5 separate regions of the Homo sapiens genome follow, and all the other regions are reported to be linked to region 1. The links are microRNA targets in miRTarBase. Many come from high-throughput screens and were not tested one by one. Region 1 holds a microRNA gene; each other region holds the end of a gene's coding sequence.
What was found. The annotated mature microRNA hsa-miR-208b-5p reads AAGCUUUUUGCUCGAAUUAUGU and lies in region 1 at 1,081-1,102, shown strand. An mRNA with a match to its seed (bases 2 to 7 or 8) in the 3' UTR can be bound and repressed. Matches are read on the target gene's strand: a 7mer-m8 pairs with bases 2 to 8, a 7mer-A1 pairs with bases 2 to 7 and ends in A, and an 8mer does both.

Region 2: the mRNA of PPT1 is a reported target of hsa-miR-208b-5p. Seed matches in the 3' UTR shown: 7mer-m8 at 2,955-2,961.
Region 3: the mRNA of FAM199X is a reported target of hsa-miR-208b-5p. Seed matches in the 3' UTR shown: 7mer-m8 at 921-927.
Region 4: miRTarBase lists PKHD1 as a target of hsa-miR-208b-5p. Seed matches in the 3' UTR shown: 7mer-m8 at 1,270-1,276.
Region 5: the mRNA of SP8 is a reported target of hsa-miR-208b-5p. The part of its 3' UTR that is shown has no 7-base or 8-base seed match.

The regions. Positions count from the first base shown.
Region 1 is chr14:23,415,015-23,419,133 of GRCh38, reverse strand. MIR208B (microRNA 208b) reads left to right here and starts at 1,071; the gene lies at 1,071-1,147. MYH7 (myosin heavy chain 7) reads left to right here. Exons shown (of 40, transcript NM_000257.4): 30 at 728-924; 31 at 1,448-1,631; 32 at 1,816-1,981; 33 at 2,142-2,266; 34 at 2,822-3,130; 35 at 3,302-3,505; 36 at 3,628-3,753; 37 at 3,864-4,119. It overlaps MHRT (myosin heavy chain associated RNA transcript), which reads right to left and starts at 3,684. Exons shown (of 6, transcript NR_126491.1): 1 at 3,633-3,684; 2 at 3,305-3,513; 3 at 2,837-3,133; 4 at 2,126-2,218; 5 at 1,761-1,922; 6 at 1,539-1,601. RefSeq lists an enhancer at 2,689-3,888.
Region 2 is chr1:40,070,145-40,074,263 of GRCh38, forward strand. It overlaps PPT1 (palmitoyl-protein thioesterase 1), which reads right to left. Exons shown (of 9, transcript NM_000310.4): 9 at 2,568-4,039. The coding sequence ends at 3,917. CAP1 (cyclase associated actin cytoskeleton regulatory protein 1) reads left to right here. Exons shown (of 13, transcript NM_006367.4): 10 at 15-138; 11 at 286-368; 12 at 692-835; 13 at 1,306-2,504. The coding sequence ends at 1,389. Among named protein-coding and RNA genes, the nearest start is that of PPT1, 25 kb to the right of the region's middle. RefSeq lists an enhancer at 1-894.
Region 3 is chrX:104,188,966-104,193,084 of GRCh38, reverse strand. It overlaps FAM199X (family with sequence similarity 199, X-linked), which reads right to left. Exons shown (of 6, transcript NM_207318.4): 6 at 1-3,477. The coding sequence ends at 3,307. Among named protein-coding and RNA genes, the nearest start is that of FAM199X, 25 kb to the right of the region's middle.
Region 4 is chr6:51,615,391-51,619,509 of GRCh38, reverse strand. PKHD1 (PKHD1 ciliary IPT domain containing fibrocystin/polyductin) reads left to right here. Exons shown (of 67, transcript NM_138694.4): 67 at 1-4,119. The coding sequence ends at 429. Among named protein-coding and RNA genes, the nearest start is that of PKHD1, 470 kb to the left of the region's middle.
Region 5 is chr7:20,780,502-20,784,620 of GRCh38, forward strand. SP8 (Sp8 transcription factor) reads right to left here. Exons shown (of 2, transcript NM_182700.6): 2 at 1,778-4,119. The coding sequence ends at 3,789. Among named protein-coding and RNA genes, the nearest start is that of SP8, 4.3 kb to the right of the region's middle. RefSeq lists an enhancer at 2,763-3,423.

The sequences.
Region 1 (4,119 bases):
CTGACTAGCCTTGCATCAAATCACTTCCCTTCCCAGCAATAAGGCTGGCTGTGGACCAACAGTTCTCCAAGAATTCTAAAAAGAAATCACAGCCCAAACCCTGCCACATGCCATCTACTCCCCAGGCTGAGGCCCTCTGCTTCTGCTGCATCCCTGGACGGGAGGCAGGGTGTGAGAAGGAGGAGAGAAAATGAACTAGGGAGGCACGAGATGGCCTTGCCCGGGCACGGCTAGGGGATGTAGGGACTGCACAAATGGGTCCTGGGATTTGCAGGGCCACCTGAAAACTGGAGAAAGAAATTCAACTGGAGCCTATTCCTAGCACTTTGCTGGACTCATGAAAAAGGAGAAAGAACATGATTTTTAAAAAACTCCAGGGTTCATACTAACCTGCCTCTTATAGCTCAGTGATCTTAGGTTAGGGAAGTCCCCTAACCTTTCTGAGCCTGTTTCCCTCTCCCCAGCCAGGTAAAATGGCGGTGATGATGACCATGTCTGGTGTGGGGAGGAGCTCAGGGCCAATGGCCATGAAGCTTTTCTTAAATAGTTCACTGCTGTATTGGCATTCTTTGTTATCAGCAAACAGTAAACCATGACAGGTCCACTGGGGGTTTGGACATAGATGAGGCCAAGGGATGATGTTGAGATTGGGGTGAGGAGAAGGGCAAGGGTGGGGTTGCTTTATGGAGAAAGCTGAACCCACCTCCTGGTGCCCACCCCTCCCCAGGCGAAGAACGCCCTGGCCCACGCACTGCAGTCGGCCCGGCATGACTGCGACCTGCTGCGGGAGCAGTACGAGGAGGAGACGGAGGCCAAGGCCGAGCTGCAGCGCGTCCTTTCCAAGGCCAACTCGGAGGTGGCCCAGTGGAGGACCAAGTATGAGACGGACGCCATTCAGCGGACTGAGGAGCTCGAGGAGGCCAAGTGAGTTCTGAGCAGCCTGACTTCTGGCTGAGGCCCCTTTGCAGGCAGGACTCAGCCCAGCCCCAGCCTCAGCAGATCCCACACAGGCGATGCTTAGCTAGTGTTTGACAACACAGGAGGACTCTGCCCCGGCCCCACCTCCTTCTCCTCTCAGGGAAGCTTTTTGCTCGAATTATGTTTCTGATCCGAATATAAGACGAACAAAAGGTTTGTCTGAGGGCAGAGTGCTTCCGTCTGGGGCAGGGCACTGTGGCAGGGAAAGGCAGTGGGGAGGGCTGCAGAAGCCCATACCTCCTCAATGTCCATAGCGCAGAGGCTGGGCCAGGGTCAGAGGGTGCCTGGGTCTCCACGCCCTGCTGGGATCCTCTGCCTGATGTTCTCGGCCCCTGGGACCTGTCCTCAGGCTTCTCCAGCTACACTTCTGAGGTTTCAAGGATTGTCTTTGAGAAGGTTCATGTTGTTTCCTCTTGTCCCCATCCACACCCTCCATCCTCCCCACCCTCTGCCACCCTCCCCTGGGCAGGAAGAAGCTGGCCCAGCGGCTGCAGGAAGCTGAGGAGGCCGTGGAGGCTGTTAATGCCAAGTGCTCCTCGCTGGAGAAGACCAAGCACCGGCTACAGAATGAGATCGAGGACTTGATGGTGGACGTAGAGCGCTCCAATGCTGCTGCTGCAGCCCTGGACAAGAAGCAGAGGAACTTCGACAAGGTGGGCCCTGGGTGGGGGCCGCAGCCAGCATGCAGGGCAAGGGGGCATGAGGGGTTCAGTGAGAGGCCAGAGCCATCCTCCTTGGAGGTGGGGGAGGAGGGCTGAGCCCAGGCAGGTCCTGAGACAGACCCTGGACATGGGGCTGAGGCTGGGGGGCTGAAGAGTGAGCCTTGTCCCCGGGCAGATCCTGGCCGAGTGGAAGCAGAAGTATGAGGAGTCGCAGTCGGAGCTGGAGTCCTCGCAGAAGGAGGCTCGCTCCCTCAGCACAGAGCTCTTCAAACTCAAGAACGCCTATGAGGAGTCCCTGGAACATCTGGAGACCTTCAAGCGGGAGAACAAAAACCTGCAGGGTGTGCTGGGGGCCCAAGAGGCTGGGGAGGGGCTGCACTGGCAGTGTTCCCATATGGTGCCACCCAAGGGCTCCAAGAGGCGTCTGGGCAAAGAGGCGTGTCCCTCCAACTCCACTGGACCTCAGCAGCCCTCAACCGAGTTACCGTGTTCCCCACACAGAGGAGATCTCCGACTTGACTGAGCAGTTGGGTTCCAGCGGAAAGACTATCCATGAGCTGGAGAAGGTCCGAAAGCAGCTGGAGGCCGAGAAGATGGAGCTGCAGTCAGCCCTGGAGGAGGCCGAGGTGTGTGTGTGTGCAGGGCACGGGGTGCAGGGAGCTGAGCTCCAGGCTTTTGGTCCCTGTTCTCATCCCCCGCTTTGTCCGTTTTGTTCACTGTCCCATCCCCAGAGCCTAGGACAGAGCCTGGCACATAGTAGGCATTCAGTGAAGATTTGTGGAGTGAATGAATGACCAGTCACTGAACTCTCTTCACATAAACATTTTACCCATTGCATCTTAGCTGAGCTTCCCATTTCCACATACCTCCCGGTTCCCACCTCTGCCTCCCTCTGTTTTCTTTTATACTCTATACCTGATTGCCTCTGTTTCCTTGGCAACACTTTTCTCTTCATTTTCCTCCTTGTCTTCATAGCTGGCTCTCCCCTGTGAGGGCCTGAATCACTTTCTCTTAGGCTTATTTTTATTTTCTCTTAGATTCTCTTTTCCTCCACCTTCTGCTTCTTTGAACCACTTACACCACTCTTGAAGTCACTTCGTATCCATGATTAGTGAGCAGGCCCCCACCCTGCCCTGTGCCCTGACTGTCTGCCTGCATCCCCTCCCCCAACCCCTTCCCAGGCCTCCCTGGAGCACGAGGAGGGCAAGATCCTCCGGGCCCAGCTGGAGTTCAACCAGATCAAGGCAGAGATCGAGCGGAAGCTGGCAGAGAAGGACGAGGAGATGGAACAGGCCAAGCGCAACCACCTGCGGGTGGTGGACTCGCTGCAGACCTCCCTGGACGCAGAGACACGCAGCCGCAACGAGGCCCTGAGGGTGAAGAAGAAGATGGAAGGAGACCTCAATGAGATGGAGATCCAGCTCAGCCACGCCAACCGCATGGCCGCCGAGGCCCAGAAGCAAGTCAAGAGCCTCCAGAGCTTGTTGAAGGTACTCACCCAGAGGGGACTGGCCTCCACGTGGCCTGGCGAAGCAGTAGTGTCTTGATACAGGCACCAGATTCCTCCTGCCCCTAGGTTACTGCAGGGACCTCTGACAGGTGCCTTTAGTGAAGGGAACCGAGGCTGGCTCCCTGCTCATGCCCACTCTCCTGATCCTCAGGACACCCAGATTCAGCTGGACGATGCAGTCCGTGCCAACGACGACCTGAAGGAGAACATCGCCATCGTGGAGCGGCGCAACAACCTGCTGCAGGCTGAGCTGGAGGAGTTGCGTGCCGTGGTGGAGCAGACAGAGCGGTCCCGGAAGCTGGCGGAGCAGGAGCTGATTGAGACTAGTGAGCGGGTGCAGCTGCTGCATTCCCAGGTGAGCAGCTCCCCTGCTCATTCCTGAAGGGAGCACAGGCTGGGGCTCAGCAAGCAAGGCTTGAGAGCTATGCATAGATGCTCAATGCTTTTCCTGCTCTGCCCAACCCTCCCCCAACCCAGAACACCAGCCTCATCAACCAGAAGAAGAAGATGGATGCTGACCTGTCCCAGCTCCAGACTGAAGTGGAGGAGGCAGTGCAGGAGTGCAGGAATGCTGAGGAGAAGGCCAAGAAGGCCATCACGGATGTAAGTCCCCCACTCCACCGACCCGATCCAGACCAGTGTCTCTCCGTGGGCTGGGCAGCAAGTGTGTGAGGACTTGACCAGACCATGTGCCACCTCTCTCCTGCACACAGGCCGCCATGATGGCAGAGGAGCTGAAGAAGGAGCAGGACACCAGCGCCCACCTGGAGCGCATGAAGAAGAACATGGAACAGACCATTAAGGACCTGCAGCACCGGCTGGACGAAGCCGAGCAGATCGCCCTCAAGGGCGGCAAGAAGCAGCTGCAGAAGCTGGAAGCGCGGGTGCGGGAGCTGGAGAATGAGCTGGAGGCCGAGCAGAAGCGCAACGCAGAGTCGGTGAAGGGCATGAGGAAGAGCGAGCGGCGCA
Region 2 (4,119 bases), not on the chromosome of region 1:
TCTCTCTCTAACAGGAAAATCAGGAAAATGTTTCCAACCTGGTGATTGAGGACACAGAGCTGAAACAGGTGGCTTACATATACAAGTGTGTCAACACGACATTGCAAATCAAGGGCAAAATTAACTCCATTACAGTAGGTGAGTCTTTGTCGCTGTCCCACGCAAGCCCCGTCCCAGAGCCCGAGAAGGCTAATACCATTTTACCTACCCTATCCTTAAAGATTCCTAAATGTATATTACTTTCCTTTAAAGTTACACGTTGACACACTCCCTTTCTTCTCCTAGATAACTGTAAGAAACTTGGCCTGGTATTCGATGACGTGGTGGGCATTGTGGAGATAATCAACAGTAAGGATGTCAAAGTTCAGGTAACTCGATATTTTGGCTCCTTCTTTTTGTCCCTGAGGAATTAATTCAAAGAGACATGGTAGACCCACAGATGTTGCTTTGGTGGGAATCTGATTCTACAAAGTCTGTAAGCTGAGCTGCTTTGGACGTGGCAGAAGAAGGGTTGGCTCTTCAAGCAAGTTCTTTTCAGGACCCATCCCAACCCACCCGAGTATCCAGTGTCTTGCGCATCTGTGAGCTTTTCATGTAGTTGCTGAGTCACGTGAAACAGGAAACCTTTTCCTGCGACTTACTGTTGTCCTTCCCAACCACTGGGACTCAGTTCTCTTTGTTTACTCTGCAGGTAATGGGTAAAGTGCCAACCATATCCATCAACAAAACAGATGGCTGCCATGCTTACCTGAGCAAGAATTCCCTGGATTGTGAAATAGTCAGTGCCAAATCTTCCGAGATGAATGTCCTCATTCCTACAGAAGGCGGTGACTTTGTAAGTTTCTTGATCTCTTTAGTATGATGTTAAAAACAGAAGGGACTGAAGATTTCTGGCATTGAAGAAAGCTATTTTATGAACATTCTGCACTGAGCAGGTAAAAACCCAATAATGCACACCAAAAGTACACAGAAATGAGGTAGTCCCATGTAGTGGAGCCCCAAAGGTAGGTGCTTTCTGCCTAAGTGGAGCTCAAGGTAGCAAAAAATAATGGGGATGAGCCATGGCACCTTGTCAGGCTGGTGCTATAAAGCCATATGTACTGTTATTTACACCCCATAGACTTAATAGTCTGTCCAAGATCGCTGAACACTAGAACATAGCATGGCTCTGTGGGTTTGTCTCTTGCTACATTGTACCGTGCTCCTGGGGTTAAGTGGAAGCAAGCATTGGGAGAAATGTGTGAGATTTAGCCCCAGCTGTTCTTTAGCTCAGATTTAAACCTGCTGTCTCTTCTTTATTTGCAGAATGAATTCCCAGTTCCTGAGCAGTTCAAGACCCTATGGAACGGGCAGAAGTTGGTCACCACAGTGACAGAAATTGCTGGATAAGCGAAGTGCCACTGGGTTCTTTGCCCTCCCTTCACACCATGGGATAAATCTGTATCAAGACGGTTCTTTTCTAGATTTCCTCTACCTTTTTGCTCTTAAAACTGCTTCTCTGCTCTGAGAAGCACAGCTACCTGCCTTCACTGAAATATACCTCAGGCTGAAATTTGGGGTGGGATAGCAGGTCAGTTGATCTTCTGCAGGAAGGTGCAGCTTTTCCATATCAGCTCAACCACGCCGCCAGTCCATTCTTAAGGAACTGCCGACTAGGACTGATGATGCATTTTAGCTTTGAGCTTTTGGGGGTTATTCTACCAACAAACAGTCCATTGGAAAGAAAACAGTCCCTGGAATTAACAGATCAGAATGTTCACACTGGTTAATCTTTTTTTAACAATGAGCATGAAGGTAGCAGAAGCTGGTGTGTTTCCAGATGGTTCTTCTAACCAAACTAATTTTTCACTGTTGACAAGCGAGGCAAGGGTTGCACTGGACCAAAGGCTGAGGCTTGGCCATCTAGCATTCCATACAAAATTGTTTCCTATAAGCATTCCTTTTATTCTCTATTCTATCCTGGGTCTGCCTCAACCGTGAGATAGGAGAGTCTCTGGTACTAGCTGCTGTAGCAGTGCCCTTCATCCAGGGCAGTTAATGGAGTCTTGGACCCTTTCTTTCTCTGGGATCCCTGCCCAGCACCTTCCTATAGAGATGACTTTAAAAGGAAAAAAAAAAAAAAAAAAACCCACATGATTTCAAGGAGTCTGGCATTCCTGAATCCTTCTTCCCTGCCAGGTGCCTGTCACCTGTCTTCACTGCCTCCTTTTCCCTGTCATGCTCATCAGCTTATGGCTTCTGTCTAAGCACCTGAACAGAGGACTGAAACCTCCACTGCAGGCTGGTTTTAGGTCTTGAATTATGTAAGAATCTTGCACAGCACTGCTAATGTAAATTTCAGTTGTTTTTCCCTCTAGGACAAACACTTACCAAAATATGCAACTTTTTTTTGGTGGGAAGAGAGATTGTCCTGTGATTTCTACCCATTTCCTGAGGCCTGTGGAAATAAACCTTTATGTACTTAAAGTTATACAGAAAATAGAATAAAGTTAATACCAAACTTGCTTAGTTGTTTACCTGTGATATTGGCTGTACAGAAATGCAAAAAATACTGAAAACACCAAGGATAAGAAACTACTCTTTATTTTAGACAACCTCATAAAATTATTTTCACATCCCCCCCAACTTCTTGCTCTTAATCCTCATCTTTTAGTTGAAGAATAAGGCTTAAGAGAGAGAAAGGAAAAACCATAATGGCTAAACTTAGCAGCACCAACACGGTTCTTTCATCAAGGCGTAGCTCATCATTTCTCCAAACTGACATGCTACAGAAATGTCTTCCAAAAAGCGTTAAGTTTTCACAGAGTGGGGACTATGATTTCCATGCTCAAATAGTGTAGGAAATGGTAGATTACGTTAGTTTTGTTTACTGTAACAGGAATTCTCAGGAGTCCTTAGACACTCTAATGTGGGTTGATCTCCAGAAGGAGAAAGGGAGTGTGTAGTATTTTCCAAGCTTTTTGAGCAAACAATCCTTTTCTCATGGAACACATCAGAAACAGTTTGGAGTATGCTGGTAAATGTGTTTTGGGGATGGAAGTCAGAAAGCCTGATCTTTTTCATATGGTTCCTCCTATTCTCTGCTAAAGCCAGCAACAGAGTAAGTTGACTCTAGCATCAAGACCACTAGTCATATTAAGAAAGGGCAGGTTGGTCGAGAATGGAATAGGAAGAACTAGCTGCCTCACTTTTCACTTTCGCGCCTACATTTTCTTCGCTCCCTAAGTTATACAAGATGTACATTTCCTCTCTTAAGCAACTTAATTTGGGTGCTACTTCCCTCCTTTTGTGACAGCAACTAATTCATCACTACCTGAGGAGACAAAGTGGGTGCTGCAGAAGCAAGACTGTAGGCCAGTGGGATTTGTCTAATAATTGATGATAAGATGATAGCACAGAGGGCAACGTACTGAGAGAGGAAGGCAGCCTTAAGAAATGATGCAGAAATAGCCAAGCAAGATTTTTCCAAGCACTGGTTAAATCACCAGCAAAACAAAGCATTTATGTGAGTACCTCAGGCCTGGGCACCTCTTTGCTTGAAATATGGCAAGACTTGGAAAAATGTTTGCCCTTAGAATCTATCTCACTACTTTAGTTAGTTGTCTCCTTTGGGCCTGGGCACAGTTCTGGCACTGATCTGGAACAGACTCCCTTTTCTAAAACTGAACTTGACCACATCAAAAGTTTGTAAAACAATCTCCATGGTAATTAAACTTGCATTCAACACCATATGGTAACAGAAGATGGCAAAGGATAAGATTCAGATCTTAGATCTTTCCAAGTAGGGCATGTTAGATGATAGAAGGATTAGTTGCAAGCTGGATCTGAGCTCAGGCTTGGGCATGAAGGAAACTGTCTCCCATGTGGTTTGGAAGAGTTAGGGGCTCCCTGAGCTCTATTGTGAACTATACGGGTTTCATCCAAGGAATGGTATGATGTGGGCATAAAACCATTCTTCAGACAACTGAAGATGGTCCCCTTCTGTAGCCAGAAACACTAGCTGTCCTGCATTGTCCATTTCCTTTAGCCCCAGGCGGTCCTGCAGAAGGAAAGGCCATAATTAATTAAAAAGCTTAATGAAGTTTTGGAGTAAAATGGTAAGTACGTTAACTTGAGATA
Region 3 (4,119 bases), not on the chromosome of region 1:
CTTTAAGGCACATGAGGCTATACAGAGTAAGCCACAAACAAAAAGTCTCTGCTGGAGAACCCAGAAACAAACAAGACTTCTATATTGGTTGTGTACTAATATTTCTGGCTAAAATATGAAGACATTTGCTATATTTTATAATTTTTAAAGCTCATCAGAATCTGGATACCGCTATAGTTTCCTATAATTTTTCCTTTATGAGAGGATTTAGCACTTTTAAAAGCTAAATAAAATGAGAAGTTCACCCAATCTATAATGAGTCATTATTTTATAGGTCAGTTTCTGAGATTAATTCACCAATATCTAATTCACTCAAGGGACAGAGGAACTGGACAAAACTGCCATAGCCTAACAAAAATGAGGTAAGTCTCATGAAAAAAAAGTGTTATTTTATTCTAAGTTCTTGTTGGGAGAGAATGAACTAGCCCTTTATACCTCACTACACATTATAATACATCACCTTCCTTTAATTCAGTTGCAAAACTATAGAAAAATATTATATATGTCATTTTGTTAAATGCAAGTCTCATCCTTTAGAAAGCTGTAGTAGGAACTGAGATACTACTATAAGATCTCTAATAAAATGTTTCTGGATAAATCTGTGGGAAATGTATTACGCCCTCAGTTAACAAGGCTTATTTTCAAAGGGGAGACTTAAAATTTGCTCCAATGTCAGTTCTCTACAGATGAGAACCAATACTACAGCAAGTAAGTCTTGCCTTTTTATTAATTAATTGGTTAGTTAGGATTTGTATTTAAAAATAAATATTACTGAGTTGGATTGTTTTAAATTGAACTCAGAGATACACCATATTGAATAAATTATTACTTATTCCAAGAAAGAAATAGTTCAAACTTTGAATTATCTACACAAGACATTAAAACGGAAAAAATGTACAGCACATGAACAGACACCAAAGAGCTTTTTATGTCTTTCTCTGCTAGTTTCTTTTTTGGGGGGACAGAGGACTATCTAATCTCCCTCTTCAATCACAAGCAAGCCCAAGTTAGTTAATTATTTTCTTTTAATCAAAGGAAATATTTTCAATCTCCTTCAACCCAACTTTATGGACTATCTCTAATTTATAGTACTATAATGACAGTTCATCTGGATTTACACAAAATTTCATGATGCACTTCTATAAACATTCAAACCTTTACAAACGTTAAAAATCAACTTTGTGGCACTTTGGTAAACTTGCTTAATAGTGACTCAAGTTAAATTGAAAGTAATAAGACTATGTGATTATTGGGAGAGTAGGGGAATTGGTCTTAAATTATATCATGACCTTGTTTAGGGTTTTTTACTGATGACCGTTAAGTAAATAGTTTCCAAGTATTTGACAGATAAATGGTGCTCTATGGTCTCCAAAAGTGGCCTGTTTTCCTTGAAGAATAGGTAAAGACAGCAGGCAATCATTCTGTGGGATTTTGCTTTTGCTAAGAGCAGGTAGAGAATTTAGATACAGTTACTATGCTCTATTTGCTCTTCCTATACTTGGAAGGGAAAACAGTGAGGTTAAGTTGTTCCACCTCCACAGAGTATTCTGGTGTCTATCCCTAAGCTCTCTTTGGGTCCTCTAAGCTGGTTAGGAGAACCAAAGAGGGGAAGGGGGAAAGTAAGAAAGACTACTCCAATTGAAAACCATAGACACATATGTTTTATTTTAGTAAAAATTTCAAATTATGACTTTAGTAGTCTTTAAAAGGTTACAACCATATCACAGACCTTGGCAAAGCTGCAGTGTATTAATTTTTATCCCCAGTTTCCATTCTTTAACCTTCAAGGAACGAAAATGAAATCAAAATTTTAAAACACATGATTATAAGCCTTTGTATCAACTGAGAATTAAGAATTTAAGTCATGAATCTTTTTCTTAATAAGCTACTTGACGTAACAAAAAGTAAAAAAAAAAGAAATCTTACTAACCTCTGTACTCTTAGAGTTTGAAAAATATTGATTACAGCTCTTCCTACAGAATCACGGTCACCTTCAAAATGCTATCCACAATATAAAGAAAATTATGAAAGTCAGAAAGCAGCTTGATTGTCAGTAGTATCAGTTTCCATCTTCTTTAACCCATGTGAATGTTCAAGACATGTGGTAGAAGAAAAGGAATAATGCTATTTCTAATGTTCATGATAACAAACACTCTAGGAAAACATTTAAAGAAACTCCATGATTTCACAGTTAAAATTAGAGCTCTATTAATAACCAACAAGCTAAGGTGTTTTCTATATCTCATTGCTCTGTATATTTCTAGCAATTTATAGAGAAGTTTAGCAGATCTACAAGGGTTTTCATCAGTTAATTTTCAACATTAACTAGGTCACATGCCAGAAGCTGTTATACCAAATATTTAAAAATTAGAGCTGTGCTGAAAAAAAAATGACCTACAATAAGAACTTGAGAGAGATATAGACTGACTTCCTGCCTGAGACAATTTTACAGCCTAAAAATTCTGAAAGCAACAGAAAAGCAGAATTGCTTATTTTGCCTAATTACTTTCACCATTTAAATATTAATCAACATAGCATCAAGTCTAAAATTCAGCTACTAGTAACATTATTTCATCAGTAGTCATCACTTAAAAAAGGATTCTGAACTTACATAAAGTAAAAAACAAAAATAAATCTAATAGGAAAAAGATAAGGGCCTGTTCTAATACCTTTGAGTCAATAATGAATGAAAACAGACAGAACTAAAACTAATGAAGGCACTATCGTAAACAGCAATCCACACCTTGCCCACCCCCACACCTCAGAAAAGATTTCCACCAGGAATCAAGAATTATGCTATGGCCCTTTAGGAAAAGTAAACTAAGAAATTGTAACATTAAGAAGGGAACTAAATTATGATCTCTACACATGTATGTATACTGACATAATAAACTACTGTCAGCAGTACCTTGAAATCTTCTAAACTGTGTAAGTACTAGTCTTTGAAGACGCCCACTTCACCGCCATAAACTTTAAACAGTCAAAACGTTTACCCAAAGTAGTGGTTCTTAAACTAGACTGTGCATCAGAATAACCCAGCACTTGTTAAAAAAACAATGCTAGGCGCCTCCCTGTTGGTTTCTGATTCACTATGTCTGGGGGCGGGGCCCACTAGTATGCATTCCTAACAACTTCTCAAGTGATGCTGAAGCTGCAGGTCTTGGGATCACCTGCCAAGAACCACTGGCTTAAATTATTAATGGTACATCAGCACAGCCCTAACCAAAATTTTGGTCAAGATGCATGTAAACCCATAAGGATGGAGTATTTTAATGCTCACAAAGAACGTTGATAAATTCACCCTTATTACATCAAAACATCAACATCTGCTTCATGGTCTTCCTCAGTCACTTTCAAGGACAGCACCTCTTCGTTAAGGAAGAGCCCACTGAGCCTCTCCTTCCGGGCCTGCCTCTGCTCCTTCAGCTGCCTCTTGCGGAAGGCCTTCTGCTGTAACTTCCGCTGCTTGGATCGCTTCTGTCAAAATAAAAATTTCTAAATCAGTTTGGTTTAGTTTTTGGCATATCCACCCCAAAATGTTTTGTGGATCAAATTCTCTATTTTCTAACTTTAAGAGCTGTTCAAATCCTTCTGTAGTATGATCCTTGTTCCAATAAGTGAGCCACTGGCTTAGGCTTAAAAATGATTAAGATTCCAATTTTGTGGTATTTGACCAGTGACTCTTCTGATTAGGAAGAGTTGAGACGATCATTTTGGCTAGTGATAGATAAAAAGTCACTTCAAAGACTTCTTTTTTAAATTCCATTAAGGTACATTGGTACAAATGCATAATGAACACATAATTAATACTAGGCGACAATACTGAATACACCTGTGGAGAACATTGCCCAAATCTCTAATACTTATGATTCTCAGGTGCCTTTCATCCAAAAACACTAGCAATCTTACAATGGCAGGTAAAAAAAAAATCATGCCTTTTTTGTAGTAGGCGAATACCATCTTAAAAATCCATCAGAAACTCAGTGGATACTCCCATCCTTGTCACCGGTGAACTGATAATAAAAAGGAATGACCACATATCTAGAGAAATTCCTTAGCAACAAAACTGGCTATGTTTCTGCTACTTCCCTAAGAACCAGGGAAAGAATCATTGTGTAT
Region 4 (4,119 bases), not on the chromosome of region 1:
AAGGTCATGCTGGGCAAGGTGAACCAGTGCCCCCACCAGTTGATGAATGGAGTGTCCAGAAGGAAAGTTAGCCGCCACATTGTCCGAGAGGAAGAGGCTGCTGTGCCTGCTCCTGGTACTACTGGCATCACATCCCATGGGCACATCTGTGCTCCAGGTGCTCCTGCTCAGCAGGTGTACCTGCAAGAGACTGGGAACTGGAAGGAGGGCCAAGAGCAGTTGCTCAGATACCAGCTGGCAGGCCAAAATCAGCTGCTGCTGCTATGCCCAGACTTCAGACAAGAGAGGCAGCAGTTGCCAGGGCAAAGTCGGCTGAGTAAGCAAAGTGGCAGCTTGGGGCTTTCCCAAGAGAAGAAAGCCTCCTGCGGGGCCACTGAGGCATTCTGCCTTCATTCAGTACACCCGGAAACTATTCAGGAGCAACTGTGATCAGGGAAGTTGGGGGCATTTGGCCTGAAAGGCAGAATGTTCCCAGTATTTCTGGATAATAAGCTGGGGAAGTGAGGACTGTCCTGCTGGGACAACTAAGAAGAGAGAATGTGGACTCTGAATCCCTTTTTCAACTTTAAAATGGAAAACAGTCATATAAATGCTTACAGACTGAAAAATGTCTCATACATATTTTGCAGCTATCATGATCCTAGTTCAATGCTAGGCAAATAATGGCACTTGTTAATTATTTACCAGTTTTTAACTTAAGCCTGATTTTAACAACTTGATAATGGTGTAATACTGACTTATACCAGCAGGGGTTATTATTAAGCATTCTCTGGATTGACCACCCACAATGCTTTGAGCTTCTTTTATAGAAGGGATCATGAAAAGGTCTGGTCAGCTACAGTTTAATTCCACACTGTTACAGAAAAGCATTTCTTTATCCTGTAGTAGCATTTGAAGGGACAGTTCAACACCCTGCTCCCTGATCTGTCAGAGCTTACCTTCCAACCACAAGGCAACTTCCTGGCTTTTTACAAGTGGATTTTATTTCATGGTTTAAATTCAATCATTATTGAGAACCTACAGTAGTGTGAGCGTATCAAATTTGCACTTCATGAGGATTTACACATGAAAATTGATATTCTCATGGGCTTTGCTGAGAGTTTAGTTAAGGACAAAGATGTAAAAATGCCAAATTTGGGAAAGGAAATTTTGTATGACCACTGTTCTATTTTTCAGTGATTCTCTCTGTTAGTAGCTGGGTCACATTTACAACTGGAAAAGAACTACATTGGGAGATCAGAGAAAGCCAAGTGGCCAAGTCCTTTATCAAAAAGCTGCTTTTTGGAGAAGATGATGCATAAAGCTGTGATACTAAGGAGAGGAGAGATTATGTCATATGCAACTGCTCTAGGCTGTGCAGGGGGTTTAAATGGAGATCAGAACAAAGGCTCACCTGGTATTGATACATTTGGTAAGGTTGTTAAAGGCAATTTCACCAAATTCACACATTTGTACGGGGCCCATTTCTTTTCAAACTGAAGAATACTTTAAACAGCCTGACTGTGTCCTTGGCTCTGGATCCAGAAGGCCTTATGCTCCAAGCATGTAAAGAAAAGATCGCAGGAATGTGGAGAGCTTCCAAAAAGAGATTGCTCTCAGATTTTCCTGAAAATCCTGAAAACCAGGATTTTCCAATCTCTACAATGTTAAGGGGTTGTTGTGTAGTTGCATTGGAAGAGAGAAAGGAAACACACTCTTTCATTGCTGAATTCTAAATAATGATGCCCTGAATTAGTTCTATGAGAAGTACTGGCAGACAGCTGTTATGTCTGCAGGGCATCAAGGGGCAGGTGTGTCTCACCCTACTAAGAATTGGCAGAAATGTTTTAACCTCTTCTTTAGGCATCTGGTGAGTATTGCAGATCTTCAGGCTGTCCCTAAAAGGAGGTAGGTAGCCTTCTCTGTGGTCACTGTGTTGGATTTGGAAGAAAATATAAGTAGATGTTAAGGTCAGTGCTCTCCAGGAGATTTCAATCCAGGCTATCTGTGTTCAGGGAATGATTTGCAAGAAGTTGGTTTATAGACGTTTACTCTGGAGGCACAAGCTGGCTGCCATGCTGAGTAAGTCCTCTTTGTAGATGATGTATTTTGCTTGGGCACCAACAGAATTAAAAACGAAAAACAAAAAAAAACTCGAATGACTTAGGCAGAACATGCCTTCCCTAGTTTAATTAGTCCCTGTTATAACCAGTTATTTATCTTTTTTTGTAGATTCTCGGTCTTGAAGTCATTTGCCTTTGCAATCTCTACTTTAGTATACTCATTGGATCCTCAAAGAGCCGTAAGCTTTTTGGAAAAAAACATTTCAGAAGTGAAGGCTTTTGAGGTTTATAAAATGGTAGCAGTCTTAGTCCTTGCCCTGCCTCAGTTTACCTGCACATGCTTTCTTTCATTTCCTCGGATTCTTTCACCACTTTTTAAGTTTTTTTTCCACAGGTATTTTTCCTGAGCTCTATACCATGCATTTAGCTGCCTAGTGAGAATATCCAGTAGGTTATCCTATAGTTACTATGAAGTTAACACAGCCCAAAAACCTACTTCTCCTTGTGTTTTTTTCCAACTCAATGAATGACATCACTGCACTCAGACCAGAAATCTAGAAGTCAGTCATGACTCTTCATTCTATTTCGCCCTTCACAAAGAGTTAGCTGCCAGCTCTGTTATTTCTGCCCCTTCTTTACCCTTCTTCCAATTTTTATTATCTTCTTATTTATCCTCTATGTGTCACAAGACCAGTCTTTCTGGGAGGCATGTTTTATCCTATCCCTCTGCGTAGGAATAACCATAATTATCTTACTAATTCCATCCCAGAAAAGCCTGTGATCCCTGAGGCCAGAATTGACTCTTTGGGCCTAAATAGCAGCTATAAACATCTTCAGTAACTTGCCAGGCTCTAGCATGTGGCATGGAATTTTGGCATCTAGCTAAAATTCCTCAACCCATAGTTAAGCTACTCCTCTTTCTCCTAAAAAAAAAAAAAAATGAGAGAATTAGGGAAACACCAAAAGCAAAGAGAGCAGCTCTATGTTCATTCATGTCTGGAGATGAGCCAATTTGAGCACCACTGTAGGCCAACTCTAAATTTATTCAGATCGTTAACATGGGTAACCCAGCAAATATTTCCCAGCAGTGACAATCTACACCCTTTATCTAAATAAATATTGAGATGTGCTTTTTTCCTGTGTTAGTTCAAAGAATCTCTTCTTGCCTCCCATTGCTGATTTTCTGTATTGATGGACTCATTTCTCTCAAGAGATTGGACAAGCTAAAATTCTAGAGAGTTCAAAAGTGTTTGAAAGTACATTTTAAGTGTTCTCACCACAAAAAATGCTAGTGTGTGAGGTGATACATATGTTAATTAGTTCAACTGATCCATTCCACAATGTATACATATTTCAAACTATCGAGTTGTACATGATAAATATATACAATTTTTATTTGTCAAATAAAGAACATCTATAAATATTTATAGATTTCAAAATTGAGAAAGAAGTATATATGGAGCCACGGTTGTTTTGACCATTTCTCCATGCTTTTTGTTTGGGGAGGGGGACATTTTTTGGGGGGCAGGGACTGTGTTCAGGGAAAGTACCTGACCAACAGAACTTCAAGTCTCTTCCAGAGTGCGAGACTCAGCTTATCTGATCAAGGTGAACTTGCCCTTCAATAGACTTGCCCTTGTTACTGCCCAGTGAGGCCACCAAGGACCAAGAACAGTTGAGCTCTCTCAGGGCCTTCCCCTTTCAACAATTTAGTTGAATGACTCCCTTCCATCTATCAGTCTTACTCCAAATATATGAAATTACTATACATTGAAATGCCTGCAAACTATATGCAAAAATGAGTATGAGGAAATCAAATGTAAATCATATGCAAATATTATTCAACCAAGCTTCTATAAAATTGTACGTGTCAATAACAGTAAAGAATTTTAATTAATTCTGTCATTTAAAATTCATGCATTCCATATTTTGCTTTCAGAACTTATAGTCTATGCCAATTTTGAAAAAACTATAAGCACAAGGAATTAAATACTATTGAGTATAGAACTGTTGATTTCAACATACACTATAGCACTTTGACTAATTACAGATATATTTGATAGAAAAGTCACATTTC
Region 5 (4,119 bases), not on the chromosome of region 1:
GCCTGACTTCTGGGTCAACAACTAGTTTAACTCTATCTTGATCTGCCAGACTGGAAGCTTGTCCCTTGGTTCAAAGTGAGACCTGGCCTTTGACTTCACTTGAGTGAGCCTCCAGCTACTGCCAGGAAGTGCTTTATCAGGGACAAAACAGGAACAAAAAAAAAAAAAAAATCACAATTTGGTACCTCATCTTCTGTTTTCCCAAAAGAACCCTGCCCACCCTGCAGAAAATTAAGCTAGAAATACTGTTCCATAACCACCAAAACAAACCAAGCAAAGCTAGAAGGGTGAGGAGCCAGAAGGAAGAAAGGGAAAGTTTGCACATCTGTACAGCAGAAAAAATGTCCCCCTTCAATCACCCCAAAGAAATCTTCTTCCAGACAATATTTCTCCTTGTCATAACCCACCTCTTAAATCAATGTTGATTCTGCATGTAATGCAACTGATATTATAAATGTACCAAGCAGCTTTCCTCTTACCTGCCACTACATTTAACTCCTTCAGAACCGCTCTTTCCGAATCCCTCAGCATTGCAACTTTCAATAAAAAAGAAACAACACTTAAACTGTGTTCTGCTTGTTATCCTAGGAAGAAAGTGACAGAAAGAAACTATTTTACTTTTAAAATCCATTATTTAGAACTATAGTATACCAAAGAATCAGAGTTAACTTGTTTGTCTAGAACCATAGAGACTGGAGGCCTCAAATACCTGCATAGACAGCAGGATTAAAGGTGTCACCTACTTGGACACGAGCTATATTATTCTAAAACATCTTTTATCCCTAATTGCTTTTTCCTCTCAATTTACAGTGCTCATAGCACTTTGTATTTTCACTTGCTTCTATGCATTATAATTACCATATATAGATTTCAATGGAAAATTTTTCAGTTCAAGATGTATACCAAGACTATACTTAGGGTGGGGAGATTGCAAACAGAAATAAAGAAGCTAAACTTGTAAGAATCCAAACACACTAACTTTTTATTCAATTTGATTCAAAATAATAATATTAATCTAATAGTGAAATAGTGATATAACATCAATCAACATTTAGAGTATTTTATGTTTCAAAGTATGGCTCAGGAACACCCATTGCTAAATGCACTTAGACATAACAAGACAGTATTTTTTATTGGCATCATTGACACCTATGAACAATAGCCTAGTAAATAGATTAAGGTTTAACCTTCCTTTTCTTTGGTGGCTGTTTAGAGACTTTAAAAGAACAGATAACTCATTTCAACAGGAATCTACTACTGATATTTACCTCTACATAATCTTTAGCTAAGACTTGGAATGCCAAAAACAAGCTTTTGTTAGCTTGACCTCCTCCACCTCCTAACAACAAAAGTTATCCCCAAACCCATGTTTTTATTTTAGATGTATTGATCTTCCAATGTAAGGCTTGGCCTTTTAAATACTAATGCAATCAATGGCCAACAACCTGACTCCTTCTGGAGACTGAGAAGGAAAGAGAATGGTGAAATTTCTTTGAATTGTGACTTAGTACAAATTTTAAGAGGTCAGTAAATCCTGATGCTATGAGCTAAATCTACTGGTAAATAATCAATTACATTCCTTAGACACTATAATCTTTATCTTGGTAAACAGAGAAAACACAGCTTTGCCAAATAGATCTTTCCATCTAACATCTTAAAGGTAATTATTTAAATATTACCACAAACAAGGATATATTTTGTTTAAATTAGACAATTAACTGAAGATAAAATGCACGTCCATAGTTTAAAAAGGGGAAAAAATACAAATTAACTGGCCTAGTCTTTTATCTGAGTTTATTATACCATTTAAAATATTACAAATAAATCAATTACATTTCATGCATTTAAAATGCAAATCTAAAATGCTCCAGAGAAAGGCTTTTCATTTCAATGTGAAATATCCAAATTATTTCAACATTACAATGAGCAATTAGTTTGCAGAATCTGCAAACATTTAAATGTAGTGTCAGAAGTATTTATTAACAGTTAACAATATTACCTTCAGGAAATACACAAAGGCCAAAGTTAGTCGAGTTTCACTTGGACAATTTATTTAATACATGGGTTTTGGCAGACCACTTATTATGAAATATAGGAGAACTCTCACTTTAACTATGCCTGAACTGCCAGCAAATGCAAATAAGTACATGCTCCATTAAATTAAATGTCATCCAACATTTATCAAATATTGTCTTAGTTACAGCTTGATACCTATCTAAATTCATATTCGAGCAAAACTAGGCCCCGAAAGTGCGTTTGTGGCTCTGCACCTCCAGAAGTGAGTTCAAAAAACCTGCAGCTCATCAGAACTGCAACAATAACTCTTAATATTTTCTTGTGACAAAAAAAAAAAATCAAGTTTACTTCAATATATTTTCAAATATTTACTGGAAGTAATGTACAAGAAAAATACTATACAAAATCGTCTCCTGGACAACTGCACCTCACACCCTTACACTGGCGGAGTTATATTTAATTGGTAACTAATCTAGAACGATTCTCCAGTTGTACAAACCATTAGGTTCAGATATATTTTACAAAGGTTCTTTTTTATTTTCCCTCTTTTGGTATTTAAACTACAGCCTCGTCTGAAATAAACGATAGCTTCTTCACTTGTTTGTAAGTTTAAATCACACACAAAAAAGTTTAACCCTACGATCTTCATGAATTGAGAGAATTTACGAAATTGGTACTATACAATTGACGGCCGGACTAACAAAAAAGATTGGGAGGTTATGTTTGGGAGTGGTGAAAAAACGAGGTAGAAAAGGACAAACATGGAGATAGTTAATCTGGTCTCACCGGAAAGGAGTATTTTTGCATAAGAAAAAAGCACCTACCCTCACCCCCGCCCCCACCCCGTAAGTTAAGTTAATGCAGTCAAAGTAACTTTGGGATCAATATTAGCAGTTTCGAGAGAAAGATTGCTCCCCGTTAGAGGAAAAAACTATTATAGAAGGGAAACCAAATGGAAGGTTGCTATTTTCCCCCTAGTTTTTTTAAAAATAAAATATATGCTATAAAGATGAAAGAAAGCTGCTGCAGCGATTCGACAAGACTGCCCTTTGCTGAAACTTGCATCGGTTCCACCTCAGGGAACAAAGAAAAAGAGGCAGACTGACATTGGGAGATCTAAACTCTACAAACTCTGGGTCTCGGGCTGCCAAAAGTCACCCCCACCAAGCCCCGACAGCCTGAGTAGGACGTCCGGCGATGCCCAGGGGCCTGGCAGGGTGCTCCGAAGCCGAGGTGCTCAGTACAGCGGCTCTGGAACCAAGCAGCCGTCTGCCCGGGCGGCGCTGTTCTGCCCAGGCCTCCAGCCTCTCCCTCTCCACCGCTCCGCTCAGGCTTGTCAGCCGAGCCGCTCCTGCCCGCGCGAGGCCCGCTGTCTACCAGGCACTGGATTAGTCCAGCTCTACCTCCAGTGGCCGTTCCCTCTAAAAGTTACGCCCTTCACAACCTGGGGGGTGGAGGAGGGGAGGACAAGGAAGAGAGAACGAGAAATAAAGGCCCGACGAGGCGCGGGTTCCGGCTGCAACGGGTTCAGGCAGCGTTACCCGTGGAAAGGGAAAGCCAGGGCCCGGGACAGCGATGCGTGTTACTTACTTGTCCATATCCCCTTTACAAAGTTAAGTCACAGAAGGAAGAAGGAAGAGGGGCAGAAACAGAAAGAGACAGAGAGCGAGTCGGATGCAATAGGGAAAGGCTGGAGTTGAAGTCCGGACAGACAGGGCCCAAGAGGACTTGGTGGGAGGAGGTCGGGGAGAGGGGCGGGCGCAGGGTGGGCGTCACTCTAGGCCGTTGCGGTGCCCGGGCTCGGGGGGCTGCAGCAGCTCTGGGGAGTGGCAGGGCGGGCTGCCCGCGGCGCTGTGCTCGCTGTCGGTGTCGCTGCCCTTCTTGCCGCCGCTGCCCGAGCCCGCCGAGCCGCCGCCGCCGCCGCCGCCACTGTGCGTCTTCACGTGCTTGCTGAGGTGGTCGCTGCGCATGAAGCGCTTGTTGCAAACTGGACAGGCGAAGCGCTTCTCGCCGGTGTGGGTCCGCAGGTGCCGCTGCAGCTCGTCGGAGCGCGTGAAGCGCTTGCCGCAGAAAAGCCAGTTGCACACGAAGGGCCGCTCGCCC